2 linked regions of the Homo sapiens genome follow. The protein of the gene in region 2 interacts with the protein of the main gene of each other region in a biochemical or structural test. Each region holds a gene or a part of one and is shown on either strand. Other genes may lie near its edges.

Region 1 (7,024 bases), on a different chromosome or scaffold from region 2:
AAGCAACCTCTGTTTTTATTTTGTTGTCATGGAGATAGAGGCCCAGCAGTGGGAATTCTAGGGACACACCAGGGTGGTGCCCGGATGCCTGGGATCCATCTGGATGTATACAGAAGAAAGTCAAACTACTTTAGGTGTAAAGCGCCTGGCTCTGGGAATCACATGGCTTCTCTAGGAGCTTGCTAATTTAGCACCGGGGAGGAAGCAAAATCCTAGGGGCATGGAGCATCCACATGTCTTTTAAACAAAACGAAGTTAGAATTTTTACTAATGACATTCTTTTTATATGATTTCAGAAGATAAAAAAAATTCCAAATGCTTAAGATATACAACAGGGAAAAGGGAATTGTTTTTTATTTAATCTGAATTATAATTTTCCCATTAAAATCTATCCATATTAAGTGGGGGGCACAAAATAATACCAATTATTTTTTAAAGTTTCAGCTGTTCAGTTTCAGGATAGCTCTGAAAATACAATTTAGTTTGAAATTCAAGCTGTTTCATTTCCTATTAAATCTTGTAAATTTCCTTCCCCTACAATACTCAGGTTGGAAGGGTGCCAAATTAGACCAGGAACAAATTTTCACCAACTTCACTTCAATGCTTTATTTTTAGATGATATTAAAAACCTCATTAGGCTCCCTGAGGGAAAAGAGTGTTAACCACTAACAGAGGCAGGGGAAAAATAAAGGAAACAGAAAGATAAGCTAAATTGTTAACAAGGAAAGCTCCTCAGTTGGTCTGAGGATGCTGTACAAGCTAAAAGAAACTTATTACCAAGACCAGGTAAATGACTTGAGGTTGGAGCTTAATCTTTTACCCTCAGGCTAGTAAGGACTAGTCAGGTTTGTCAAAGTGGCATATGTCTTTATTATGATTTCCAGATGGGATCTGGTGGGAGGCGGGTGGGTAGAAGGGAAGGCAGAGAAACCTTTAAAGATTGTAAGCTAAGTGCTCTATACCTTTATACAATACCAATGTGCTTGAGTCTCCCGTTAAGAGGCTGAAAACTGGGCAGGCATACGCAAGACTGGGTGCGAGATTCAATGGAATGTCAAATGAAACTTAGAATTTATTAATGTATTTACATAATTTATAATCTTTAAGCAATGGCCCCATAAATATAGACTACAACTTTACATATGCTAAGCAATAGATACTTGCTTTTCCCCACCAAAATACTTGGGTTAAAAAAAAATTGACAGCATTTATACCACCTTCTTCACTTCCACTCTTCTTCCTTTTTAAACCATTGCTAGTCATTTTAGAACATATGAAATTCAGTTTATTCCGGGCAGCTTCTCTACCATCACCATCTTGATCATGAGAGCTTATTTAAAAAGGTGCCAATAACGTGTTTGGTGGCACACACATGACAAGGTCAGAAGCAAACCCAGGATGAGCTAGGCATCTGCTGCTATCATTGTTAATTTACTGTACGTATCCTAGGCTAACATGTTCAATGAAAAGTGCTTTAGAGATGGCAGAGATGAAATCATTTCCATCAGTCCTATAAATAACCCATTTTAGCTTCAGACAATAATTGTCCTCCCTACACTTAAACTATCCTACTATATGTTAAATGATACAACTCCCTCTAACAGTGGTAACAGAAACCAAGGAAATTATAATCTCCACAAGGTCTGTTTCTTTTCCCTTAAGAACCACAAAAGTGCTAATTTTCCCTTTACAAATGTTACATAAAATCTTGATTACAAAACTACTCAACAACTTAATCCTACCATCCATACAATTATATGTTCCTTTTCAGCAAGGTCAAAAGCCAACGATGTAGTCCCTTTGTACACTAGAGATTCTTTACATAATAGAAGTTCACAGACTGAAATATCATTGCTGCAGTCTTTGGAGAACAGAACTGGTCCATTTCTGTGAATCCTTTTTGCACGGAGAAGACTCAAGACTGGCTAGGTGAAAACTGGTGGCAGGGACCCCAGCCCTCCTGTTAACTTTCAGGACCACCTACTTCATCATCAAGTCTGAGAGGCTGAGGTTCGGTCAGCAGCAGCTCCGCTTTGGCTCTGAAGGCTGTCTTCGGAGTTTGAAGCCCTTACCGCCAGATGGCAGGTTGGCGTCAGTGGATGGAATTCTTCGACCTAAACCAAGATGAGAAAAGGGAAGGGAGTGAGCTTTAACTTTCTCAGACACAACAATTTTGCAGATGCAATTTGACAGGTTTCACTGAAGTAAAAAAAAAAAAAAAAAAGTTTAATAAACTTTTTATACTCGAATAATTTTAGATTTATAGAAAAGCTGCAAAGATGATAGAGCTCCTGTGTACCTCCCACCCAGTTTCCCCCAGTGCTGACATATTACCATGGGACATTTGTCAAAATGAAGAGTTCAACATTGCCACATCACTATTAACTCCAGACTTTTTTCAGATAGCATCAGTTTTTCTACATGTCCTGCTTCTGCCCCAGGATCCAAACAAGGATATCACACAGCACTTAGTAAACGTTTTTTAATTAAAAAAAGCCACACATCAAAAACATTTTGTTTTGAGTAGGTAATACATAGGATTTGTTTTTTAAAAAGTTCAGTCAGAACATGGTTGTCCCTCTGTCTCATGACAAGGCCACCACTGTGGCCCATTTCTCGTGTAGCCTTCCAGAGACATATATGCACAAACACTCAGGCACACCTATATCCCTACCCATCTCCCCTTTCCAAGGCCAAATGGGGCAAGAAATAAAGCAAACCATATGCACCATTCTCCACCTTGATACTTTCACTCAACACATCCTGGGGATTGTGGCATCATAGTACATGGAGAAAGAGCCGTCACCTTTTTTTTTTTTTTTTTGAGACAGGCTATCGGCTCTGTCACCTAGGCTGGAGTATAGTGGCATGATCTCGGCTCACTGCAACCTAAGCTTCCTAGGTTCAAGCGATTCTCCCACCTCAGCCTCCCGAGTAGCTGGGATTAGAGGCGTGTACCGCCACGCCCGGCTAATTTTTATATTTTTAGTAGAGACCAGGTTTCGCCATGTTGGCCAGGCTGGTCTTGAACTCCTGACCTCAAGCAATCTGCTTGCCTTAGCCTCCCAAAGTGCTGGGATTACTGATGTGAGCCACTGTGCCTGGCCTGCTGCCTTCTTTTTAACAGCTCTAAAATACTGCATTTGTAGATGTACCACCATTCATTTAACCATTTCTCTATTGATGGGTATTTAGTTTGTTTCCAATATTTTGATGTTATTAACAAAGATGCAAGAAGCATCTTTCTGAACTTACGAGTATGTGTGTAGGATTAATGCCCGGAGTGGAAGAGCTAGGTCACGGTATTCTACTCCTGGGTATTTGTCTGACACATACATTGTATTCCAGTGTCTATCTAGCACAAATGCAGGAAGAATGTGCAATTTAAATTTTGACAGATGCTGCCAAATTACTCTCTGAAGAGGCTGTGCCACTATATTCTCCTACCAACAATGCATGAGAATGAACAGGTTTCACTTCACTGCTCCGTGAAGCATAATGACAATTTCAAGAGAATCCTTAAATCACCCATCTACCTACCTGGCTGATAACTCAAGGGTTGCTTCTTGTACAAAGGCTTTCCTGACACCCTCCCACTTCCTTACTCTGTAACATCCCAGACACTACAATCAATCAGGACACCAGAAACAGGTTACTACACATATCTCATATCTGTTTACATGACTATCTCCCTCACATTAGACCCTAAGCTCTTCTAGGGAAGAGATCCTATTTGTCCATCTTTATGTTTCCAGTATCTTATCAGCACAATACCTGACACAGAAGTATTTTGTAAACATGGAATAAATGGACATGTACACCTTTTGACATTAACAAGGCTAAGATGGCCTCTCCGCTGACTCAGGTTCTCTCAAGCCTTGAGCCTCCACCACTTTGAGTTGTCTGCGGATCTGTGTGGGGAGTACACAGCATGGTTTCTACATTGAGAAAGTATCTCCCAATGTCTTCTAACTACTTTTCAAATGACTAGACACTGCTGTGAATATACTACAAATCTGTTTAAAAGCTTTACCCAAGCTTCTTGTCATTATTCTCAATAAATGGATATTGAAATATAGCTGGTATCTAAGAGACATCTGTGAAATATGACATCAAAAAATTGTTGAACAAATAATATTTTTAAAAGAAATAAGAGGAGAATATTTTCATGAGCTGGGAACAGGTAATGATTTCTAAAACAGCAACCAAAAACCTAATGCAGCTAAACATAAAGGAAAACAAGGATCAGTCAGATTATATGAAGATTAAAAACTTCAATCCATCGAAGGAGTTGACTAAAAAAATCAAAGGCAAGCCATACAGTAGAAGATACTTCCAATATACATAGTCAATAAGTGACTCATCTCCAAAATAAAGAACTATAAAACATTAAGAAGGAGGCAGGTAACCCAACAGGAAAACAGGCAAAAGACTTAACAGGCCCTTCACAAAGGAGGATATGTAGATACGACAAATGTAAACATATATTCGGAAATGTGCTCGACTTCATTAACTGTCATGAAAATGGAGATCACTGACTACCCACCAGAGACAGAAGGTGATCGGACTTCTCATACACTACCGGTATGGTTGTCAACTAGTACAACTACCACTTTGAAAACTGGTTGGCGGTAAAGCTGTACTGAATGCATGCATACTCAATGACAAGCATTTTTTCTTGTGGGTATAAATATACCTAACAAAAATGTGTACAGATGTTCACCAAAGAATACGATCAGAATGTTTAGAGCAGTACTGTTTGTAATAACTCTAAATTGGAAACAGCTACCCAAATGTCTATCAACAGCAGAATGGATAATTATATTGTGGGTATTCTTCACTGCCCCCTTACCCGCACAACTCGGACTCTGACACTCACACGCACAAACCAGCCATGAGAGTGGATCATTCACAGCTAGATGCAATGACATGGATGGTCTAAAAATGTAATGCAGAATGAAAGAAGCCAGACACACAAGAGGAAACAGAGTGTTTTTAAAAATATAAAGTACAAAATATATGTAAAACAAAACCAGATAAACCAATCTGAAGAATTAGTATCAGGATGGTTACCGTTGGGTGTAGGAACGGCCATGTCCCAACCAGAGTGCCAAGCACCGGAGTATATTCAGTTTGTGAAAATTCACTGAGCCTTATACTTCTGATACGTGCACATTTCTGTATGTCTATTATACTTCAATACAAAGTCAGTGTGCCAGGCACTGTGCTCACGCAGTTTTACTAAGCCAGTGAACAAGAAAGTCTATGTACATCTCTCCCAATTTTTCTAATCTTTGTGAACATATAGGTTTTGTTTTTCACAGTTAAATTGAATATGTACATACTAGTTTTTATATAAGACTTTTCATTGTTGGTATAGTTTACTATCTTCCTTTTTTTTTTTTTTTGAGATGGAGTCTTGCTCTTGTTGCCCAGGCTGGAGTGCAATGGCGTGATCTCGGCTCACTGCAATCTCCACCTCCCGGGTTCAAGCGAGTCTCCTGCCGCAGCCTCACAAGTAGCTGGGATTACAGGCATGCACCACCACGCCCAGCTAATTTTGTATTTTTAGTAGAGATGGGGGTTTCACCATGTTGGCCAGGCTGGTCTCGAACTCCTGACCTCAGGTGATCCACCCATGTTGGCTTCCCAAAGTGCTGGGATTATAGGTGTGAGCCACCATGTCTGGCCTACTTTCCTGTTTTTAATACCACTAAAGTGAAGAACACAAAAAGATAGCAGTAATTTTAACATACTCATGACACCACACACTTAGACATTTTAGCTTGAGCTGTGAAAAATTCCCAACTGGCTTTATGTTGCCTTTCAAAAATCCATCTGGGTACCTGCTATTTACATCCAGGACAACAATAAACATGATTTTTGTTTTTTTAAGAGACAGGGTTTTGCTCTGTCACCTAAGCTGAAGTGTAGCGGTGCAATCAATGGCTTACTGCAGCCTCAAATTCCTGGGCTCAAGCCATCCTCCCACCTCAGCTTCCCGAGTGGCTGGGACTACAGGTGCATGCCACAATGCCCTAGTATTTTGATTTTTATATTTTTTTAGACATAGGGTTATACTATGTTGCCTAAGGTGGTCTTAAACTCCTGACCTCAAGTGATCCTCCTGCCTCAGCCTCTGGAGTAGCTGGGATTATAGGTGACAACCACCATGCCCGGGCACATCATGACGTTTTAACACTGAAATGAACGGGCTGGCCTAGAGGGTGCAATCAGTAGTTCACTGGCCATATCTGGCAGCAGATGGGCTCCTTAGGCCTGCAAAGTACTCTGAAAATACTTAAATGATTGGCCAAATCTAAACAATGGGACATGTAAAAAAAAAATGTGAAAACAACCTCAGCAACCAGGGGCCCACATTCCAGTGTGGCCCCAGCTGATGGAGCTGGGCCTGGCCTGAGCTGGGGTTCCCAAGGCTTCACCTGGGCCTGCTCTGCTCATGGGTCAACCTTGCCTGGCCTTGGTGGGCTCTGGAGTTCATGCCCCTCCTCGACACAATGGCAAAGGACCCTCCCTGCTTCAGTACCCTTGGCTCTCAACCACATGGTGGATCTTAACGCTACATCCACCCTGCTCTGACGGCTTTCTGCTTTTCTCCACCTGGAAGTCTGACATGTTTATGTGACTCCCCACACCTCTACAGGGCCTGCTTCTTTGGACCTCAGCTCTGATAGCACCTCCTTAGGGAGACCTTCCCCAATTGCTTGCAGACATTCCTTCATTTCATCCTAAATTATTTTCTTTGTATCAGTTATTATGATCTGAAATGATCCTATTTATTTGGTGTTCACTGTCTGTTTCCCTCTGTAGAATGTGCGCTCCAGGAGAGCAGGGGCTGCGTCTATCTTCTTCACGGCTATTTCCCCTGAGCCTGGAACAGCTCCCAATAAATATTTTGATGAATTTGAATGAAATGAATAAACATAGATACGATCTGCAGAGGATCCCAAAGGCATGCAGCAGCCCCTCTCCCATCGAGTATCATCATATTAACACTTCTGGA
Region 2 (7,024 bases):
TATTATATTAATGACTGTTATCATTAGACGGTTAAAGGATATGTAGGCAGGCGTAGTGGCTCACACCTGTAATCCTGGCACTCTGGGAGGCTGAGATGGGAGGATCACTTGAGCCCAGGAGTTCAAGACCAGCCTGGCCAACATAGGACCCTGTTTCTACAAAAAATACAAAAATTAGCCAGGTGTGATGGATGGTGTGCACCAGTAGTCTTAGCTACTGAGGAGGCTGAAGTGAGAGATCACTTGAGCCTGGAATGCAGTGAGCCATGACGGAGCCCTGGACTCCAGCCTGGGTGACACAGTGAGACTCCATCTCCAAAAAAAAAAAAAAAAAAAAACAAAAAAAAAAAACAGATATGTAAGATTAGATAGTTCAACTAAGTGTGACTGGCATGATAAATAGCTTTATTGAGATATAATTCACATACATACACCATTTAAAGCAAATTCAGTGGTTTTTAGGATTTTCTTTTCTTTTTTTTTTTTCTTGAGACAGAGTCTCACTCTGTCACCCAGGCTGGAGTGCAGTGGCACGATCTCAGCTCACTGCAAGCTCTGCTTCCTGGGTTCACGCCATTCTCCTGCCTCAGCCTCCTGAGCAGCTGGGACTACAGGCGCCCGCCACCACGCCCGGCTAATTTTTTGTATTTTTAGTAGAGACGGGGTTTCACCGTGGTCTGGATCTCCTGACCTCGTGATCTGCCCGCCTCGGCCTCCCAAAGTGCTGGGATTACAGGTGTGAGCCACCGCGCCCAGCTTAGGATTTTCAGAGTTGTACAATCATCATAATAAATGTTAGAGAATTTTTATCATCCCAAAAACATGAAAGTAGGTAGATGTTACTATAATTATTCAAAAAAGTAAGCTGCATAAACCAGTGCCTGTCACTGGGCAGGTAATGTCCTATGTGAGAGGAAAGAATCATTAATGGACTCTATGCCTGGGCTGACGTCAGAGAGATATGGATTCATACCCTACTTCTGCAGTTTACTCACTGTTTGTCCCTGGGCAGGTTCTCATGAGGTGCAGTGAAGATCTAACAAGACCATGGGTATAAGGCACTTAATGTAGTGCCTAACACAAAGTGGATGCTCAGCTGGTTCTCTTCCATTTTCTTCCCCCAGCAAGGGCATAAGGTCCATGAGAAGCTTAGACCATTATGGTTTACTGATGCCTCCTCAGCCAACTCTTAAAACTTTACCTAGAACATAGCAGATGCTCAATAACCACTTGCTGAATGAATAAATGAATTTTCTTACCAAGCTCCTGGGGTTCCCACATGTAAGGATCAACCCCTCCATAGCTGAAAGACTCATATCCTTGGGTCCCTGACTCTGCTCGATCATCCCCTTCTCGTTTCAACAACCTGTCCTTTGCTTTTTTAGCCTTCTGGACAAGACCTTGAAAAATGGAACAAATAATACAAATGAGCCATGAAGAACACCCAGTAAACAGTCAAAAGAAATCTCAAAAAACAAGAGTTGACGAAATAATTATCGTTTGTTTAAAAATGCACCAGAAATATTTAGATCTCAAGTAAAATGCAGGAGCAAGCACACAAACACTATATTACAAATACCACAGAGCAATACACTAGTTAATCAATATTAGCATTAAATTGGTTTAGGCGGCCAACATATGGGCTAAATTACTGCTCATTGCCAAATTTAAGAGCACAATTAAATAAAAGTGCTAAAATCAAATTTGATGAGGAAAACAGGGTGATGGAAGTGTTTTCTTCTTTATCTTAATTGGAGTGGTGGTGAAGTGGGTATATACATTTTTGAAAACTTTTTGAATTGGGCCAGGCGCAGTGGCTCACACCTGTAATCCCACAAGGGAGGCAAATTGCTTGAGTCCAGGAATTCAAGCCAGCCTGGGCAACATGACAAAACCCCATCTCTACTAAAAATACAAAAAACTAGCTGGGTGTTGTGGCATGCACCTGTAGTCCCAGCTACTTGGGAGGCTGAGGTGGGAGAATCACCTGAGCCCAGGAGGTCGAGGCTGCAGTGAGCTGAGATTGTGCCACTGTACTCCAGCCTGGACAACCAGAATGAGACCCTGTCTCAAAAAAAAAAAAAAAAAAAAAAAAAAATTAAAACTATACCTCAGTTAAAATAATGTTTTTTAAAAAACAAGTTCTATAGTACTAATTCATTTACCCCAGAAACTCATGAGTAAATTCTTCTCATTTACCTCCAGGATGGGATTCAGCTAAACCTCCATCCGTGGACTGGTGTTCCCCATAGGCTTAACTGGACACAGAGTTCTTGCTTCCCCACTACTGCCCACGCACTTATTGAATGCATGTGAGAATACTTGCAAAAAGCTTCAAGAAACAGATATAACATCTACAACATAACACAAACAGAACCAGATTGGGTAAGAAGAGAAAATGAACATTTCCTGTATTTAGCCATCGTATGTACCAGGTACAACGCAAAGTGCTTGCAAATACATTATGCCAGTTCATGCTTACAATGTTATAAGGCAGGTGATAGCCCTACTTACAAATGAGGAAACGACATCAAAGACAGGGAAGAACTTGCTTCACCCAAGATCACAGAGCTTACAGGTAACAGCAGGGCTGGAAGTAGACACCTCATGTGCCTGAAATGAGAGCTCCAGCTCTCCCCCGCTAGTCCTGATTCACAAACTATGCCTCTGCAGAACATGGGTTCTGCCACCTGTGCTGGTGCAGAGAACCACCTGTTAAACTGAACAATCAGCTGGTGTGGGGCGGGAAGAATTCTCAGTTCTAAGACGCTCTCTCATGAATGTTCTTTAATCTTGGATGACTGCTATCCCTTTCTTCCACCAGAATCTAGTAGAAAATATCAGACTGAATATAAAATGGTATCATTACTTTTACTTTTTAATTATTTATTTTTTAGAGACAGGGTCTTGCTCTGTCACCCAGGCTGGAGTGCAGTGGCTGATCATAGCTCACTGCAGCCTTGATCTCTTGGGCTCAAGCGATCCTCTCGCCTCAGTCTCTCAAGTAGCTGGGACTATAGGTGTGCGCCACCATGACTAGGTAAATTATTTTATAAAACATTTTTTTGTAGAGATGTTGCCCAGGTTCGCAGGCTGAGGGTGAGATTGATAAGAATACACTTGTCTTTTTTTTTTTTTAAGACGGTCAAGCCAATAAGCAAACTTCCTGATTATTGGTCACTGTGGGACAGCTTTGTCCAAACTGGAAAAATACTAAAACAAAAGGACATCCTTTAAAATGCACTAAAGTGGGTTTTTTTTGTTTGTTTGTTTGTTTTTTTTTGAGACAGAGTTTCACTCTTGTTGCCCAAGCTGGAATGCAATGGCAGCAATCTCAGCTCACTGCAACCTCTGCCTTCCAGGGGTTCAAGGGATGCTCCTGCCTCAGCCTCCCGAGTAGCTGAAATTACAGGCACGTGCCAACACACCCAGCTAATTTTTGTATTTTTTTTAGTAGAGATGGGGTTTCACCACATTGGCCAGGCTGGTCTTAAACTCCTGGCCTCAGATGATCTGCCCACCTCGGCCTCCCAAAGTGCTGGGATTGCAGGCATGAGCCACTGTCCCTGGCCTAAAGCAGTCTTTTCTAGTAACAGGGGAGAGAAAACTGCCTGATGTGAACAAAGGGTCTAGCAAACAGGAATGTGAGTTAGCAAGTAACAATTCATTTTTGCAAACAAGACTAAAGTATCAGGTTAAACAGGCAATCTATACCATTTAACCACTTTTAGGAGATAGAAAAACTGCCTGGCAATGTTCCCAGAAAGGACATAGCCCTTCCAGAGAAGGCCAATTAAAAATAATCCCATATATTTTAAAAAACACTAACAAAGCAAGAAGCCACAGTCAATTTTCAGCTATCTTTTCTTCTACTTACTGAAAATGGGCTAGACTGGAGCTGAACCAGGACTGGGCCCCGAACCCACTAACTTTTTACTAATGACTAATCTATCTTTTCTTTTTTGAACTGCCCCCAAAACCTAATACTAAGGTTCACTCTTTTGGCTTTAACTTTTCACTTGCCCAAAACTAACCATGTCATAACATTTCTAAGAATCAAAAGACCAAATGGAGACGTAATCTGCTTTCTAAAGGGCTTTTCAAAAAACCTTTCATGTCAATCCTTAAAACTTTACTTTCCTGATTCTGAAATGCAGAAAACTGCAACATAATCAAGAATTCCTTTCTAACTAAAGACATGATCATTAATAGTACTAGAGGTAGAGATGTCGGGGGTAAGGCAGGGTGGGAAATAAAGGGAAAAACCAAGAGGATCTTTTCTTTCTTTTTTTTGAGACAGTTTCACTCTGTTGCTCAGGCTAGAATGTAACAGCCTTGATCTCCTGAGCTGAAGCGATCCTCCCACCTCAGCCTCCTGGGTAATTGGGACTACGAGTGCGTGCCACTATGACTGGCTAATTTTTTTAAATGATTTTTTTGTAGAAATGGTCTCGCTATGTTGCCCAGTCTGGTCTCCTGGGCTCAAGCAATCCTCCTGCCTTGGCCTCCCAAAGTACTAGAATTACAGGCATGAGCCACCGCACCCGGCTGAAGTAACTTTATTTTGTTTTTTTGTTTTTGAGTCAGAGTTTCACTCTGCTGCCCAGGCTGGAGTGCAGTGGCATAATCATGGCTCACTGCAGCTTCAACCTTCCGGGCTCAAGGGATCCTTCTGCCTCAGCCTTCCAAGTGGCTAGGACTACAAATGCATGTCATCATGCCCAGCTAATTAAAAAAAATTTTTTTTTATTTTTGGACAGGATCTATGTTGCCCAGGCTGGTATCAAACTCCTAAGCTGAAGCGATCCTCCCGCCATGGCCTCCCAAAGTGCTGGGATTACAGATGTGAGCCACTGTGCCCAGCCAAGGATCCTTTCAAGTTTCTTTCACAAGGCACAAAATTTCTATTCTATTTAGTATTCCTTAAATAGATTCCCATATCTGTATTCTCTAAATAACCTTAAACATTTTTCCTCTTAAAAAAGGGTCACTGTAGGAATCCGGGAACATTCTCTAACCTCTCTACCCACTGGTATCACCAGGTTGAGCAATGGCATTGTATAGGACTTAGTTCAGCTGACACCAAGACTGGAAGCTAGTTGAAAATGATGGAAGCTCTTCGGTTGTCCAAAGGAAACTTACATAATCAGGTTTTTTAGTTTTGTTTTTGCTTCATTTCCCCCAGGAAGCTGCAATGCATGTTGTGATTGGAACACGGGGCCTCTCACCCTCAGTGATGTCACGTGCAAAGGGCAGCACTGGATTTACAGATGACAGAAGACCTACGTTCCAGGCCTAGCTCTGCCAATTCCTGTGTGACCGTGGATAAGTAACTCAACATCTCTTGAGCCTCACTTCACTTACTATCTGTAAAATGAGACCAATCACCTTCTTGCAGAGTTGTTAGGAGAGTCAGATGAAACAATAATGTCTGTGAAAGAAACTCTAAAAACTATAAAGCACAGCATTTTTTTCCCTCCTAATAGTTTTGGCTCTGTTCTATAGCCTCTACAGCCAGAAGCCACCTCATCCACCAAAGCCCTCAGGATTTCAGAAATGTTTGCCTTTGTTGTTTTTGGATAGAAGTTATAACTGTTTATGCTTTTAGAAACTCTTTTTTACTGAACAGAAAAGTGAGATAGAGTGAGACTCTAGGGACAAATATCTGATTACAAAGTGCATATGATTCACCTGTCTGAAAGCTGAAGTCCACTTAGAAATACATGATCATTCCTTTCTTTCTCTCCCAATAAAGACTTTGAATACAACATCCAGAACTCTTTAATCTCAAGGCCTTCAGAAATGCTGCCAGCTGTGAGAAGCAAGTTAGCTGAATAACTACAAAATAAGTTCCAGAGGAGCAGCATCTTTGGCGTGTGTGTGTTTGTGTGTGTGTGTGTCTCTCTCTCTGTTGCCCAGGTGCGAGTGCAGTGGCATGATCATCGCTCACTACAGCCTTGACCTCCCTGGGCTCAAGTGATCCTCCTACCTCAGTCTCCTGAGTAGCTGGGACTACAGGCGTGCACCATCACGCCCGGCTAGTTGTTTTTTTTTTTAATTTTTTTTGTGAGACGGGGTTTCGCCATGTTGCCCAGGCTGGTCTTGAACTCCTGAGCTCAAGTGATCTGCCCACTCTGGCCTCCCAAAGTGCTGCGAATAGAGGCGTGAGCCACTGTGCCCGCCCAGAGGAGCAGCATCTTATCTGGAGGTTAGAATTTGATGTCCAGGAAATACAATAAACATATGTATAGTGAAAAGTACCTTTGAAAAATTCTTTCCACAACTCTCTCAAACCTGAGCTCTTGGAAGCTCAAAAACCAAGGTTTTTAGGTTGTTTTGTTCTTCGACTATGACCTTCCTTTTTCTGGGCTATAGAGGGCAAGATACCAATTGGGGAAGGAAGGATGGTGGGAAGTCTTAAATTTGTGACAGGTAAAATGGGTGCATAATGTGCCTCCATCATCATAGCAAAGGAAAGAAATTCCTCTCCAAACCCTGTTAGGCTGGTGGTTAAAGAACAGTCAAGCCAGATCACAGCAATTACATTTACTAGACTCAAAGTCAGATTGTTTCTCTGAGTGGCTTCAGACAAGTTATCTAATCTCTCTGTGTCTGGTTCGAAATGTGGCTTACAGCCACACAGTTATTGTGAGGATTAAATGAAATTAATAAACAGGGAAACTCTGAAAACGCCTGGCACATGACAAACACTAGTCATCTGTTTGCTACTACTATTATCATATTCCTGTGGCAACACCAAAGCTGATGAGAACTATCCCGTGAGTTAAAGCTCTCAACGACAGCAGGGGATAGGCAAGGTCCTCGCCTCTTACTTTTAATTTGCCCTTTGACATCACGGTCTTCCCCTGAGTGTTCTTCCTCGTAATGTGAGTGAAGCTGATAGAAAGACTGCAGATCCTTCAGGCACAGAGGGCAGAGGAAGCCCTCCCTCACTTCCCCTGGGTCGTCCAGAGAAGCCATGGCAGTGCCGCTCTCAACCCTAGGAAGGCAGGAATCTCATGCC

The links. Proteins that work in one complex are often made in the same cells at the same time.
Region 1: the proteins of RBSN (region 2) and RAB22A are reported together in a solved structure, tested with the Homo sapiens proteins (one study listed by BioGRID).

The regions. Positions count from the first base shown.
Region 1 is NC_000020.11:58,354,696-58,361,719, reverse strand, and holds part of RAB22A (ras-related protein Rab-22A), read right to left. Parts: intron 2,115-7,024; coding exon 2,017-2,114; 3' UTR 1-2,016. UniProt on the Homo sapiens protein: Plays a role in endocytosis and intracellular protein transport. Mediates trafficking of TF from early endosomes to recycling endosomes. Required for NGF-mediated endocytosis of NTRK1, and subsequent neurite outgrowth.
Region 2 is NC_000003.12:15,089,140-15,096,163, forward strand, and holds part of RBSN (rabenosyn-5), read right to left. Parts: 5' UTR 6,982-7,024; coding exon 6,834-6,981; exon of another isoform or gene 6,532-6,833; intron 2,355-6,531; exon of another isoform or gene 2,200-2,354; intron 1,401-2,199; coding exon 1,260-1,400; exon of another isoform or gene 1,021-1,259; coding exon of another isoform or gene 996-1,020; intron 1-995. UniProt on the Homo sapiens protein: Rab4/Rab5 effector protein acting in early endocytic membrane fusion and membrane trafficking of recycling endosomes. Required for endosome fusion either homotypically or with clathrin coated vesicles.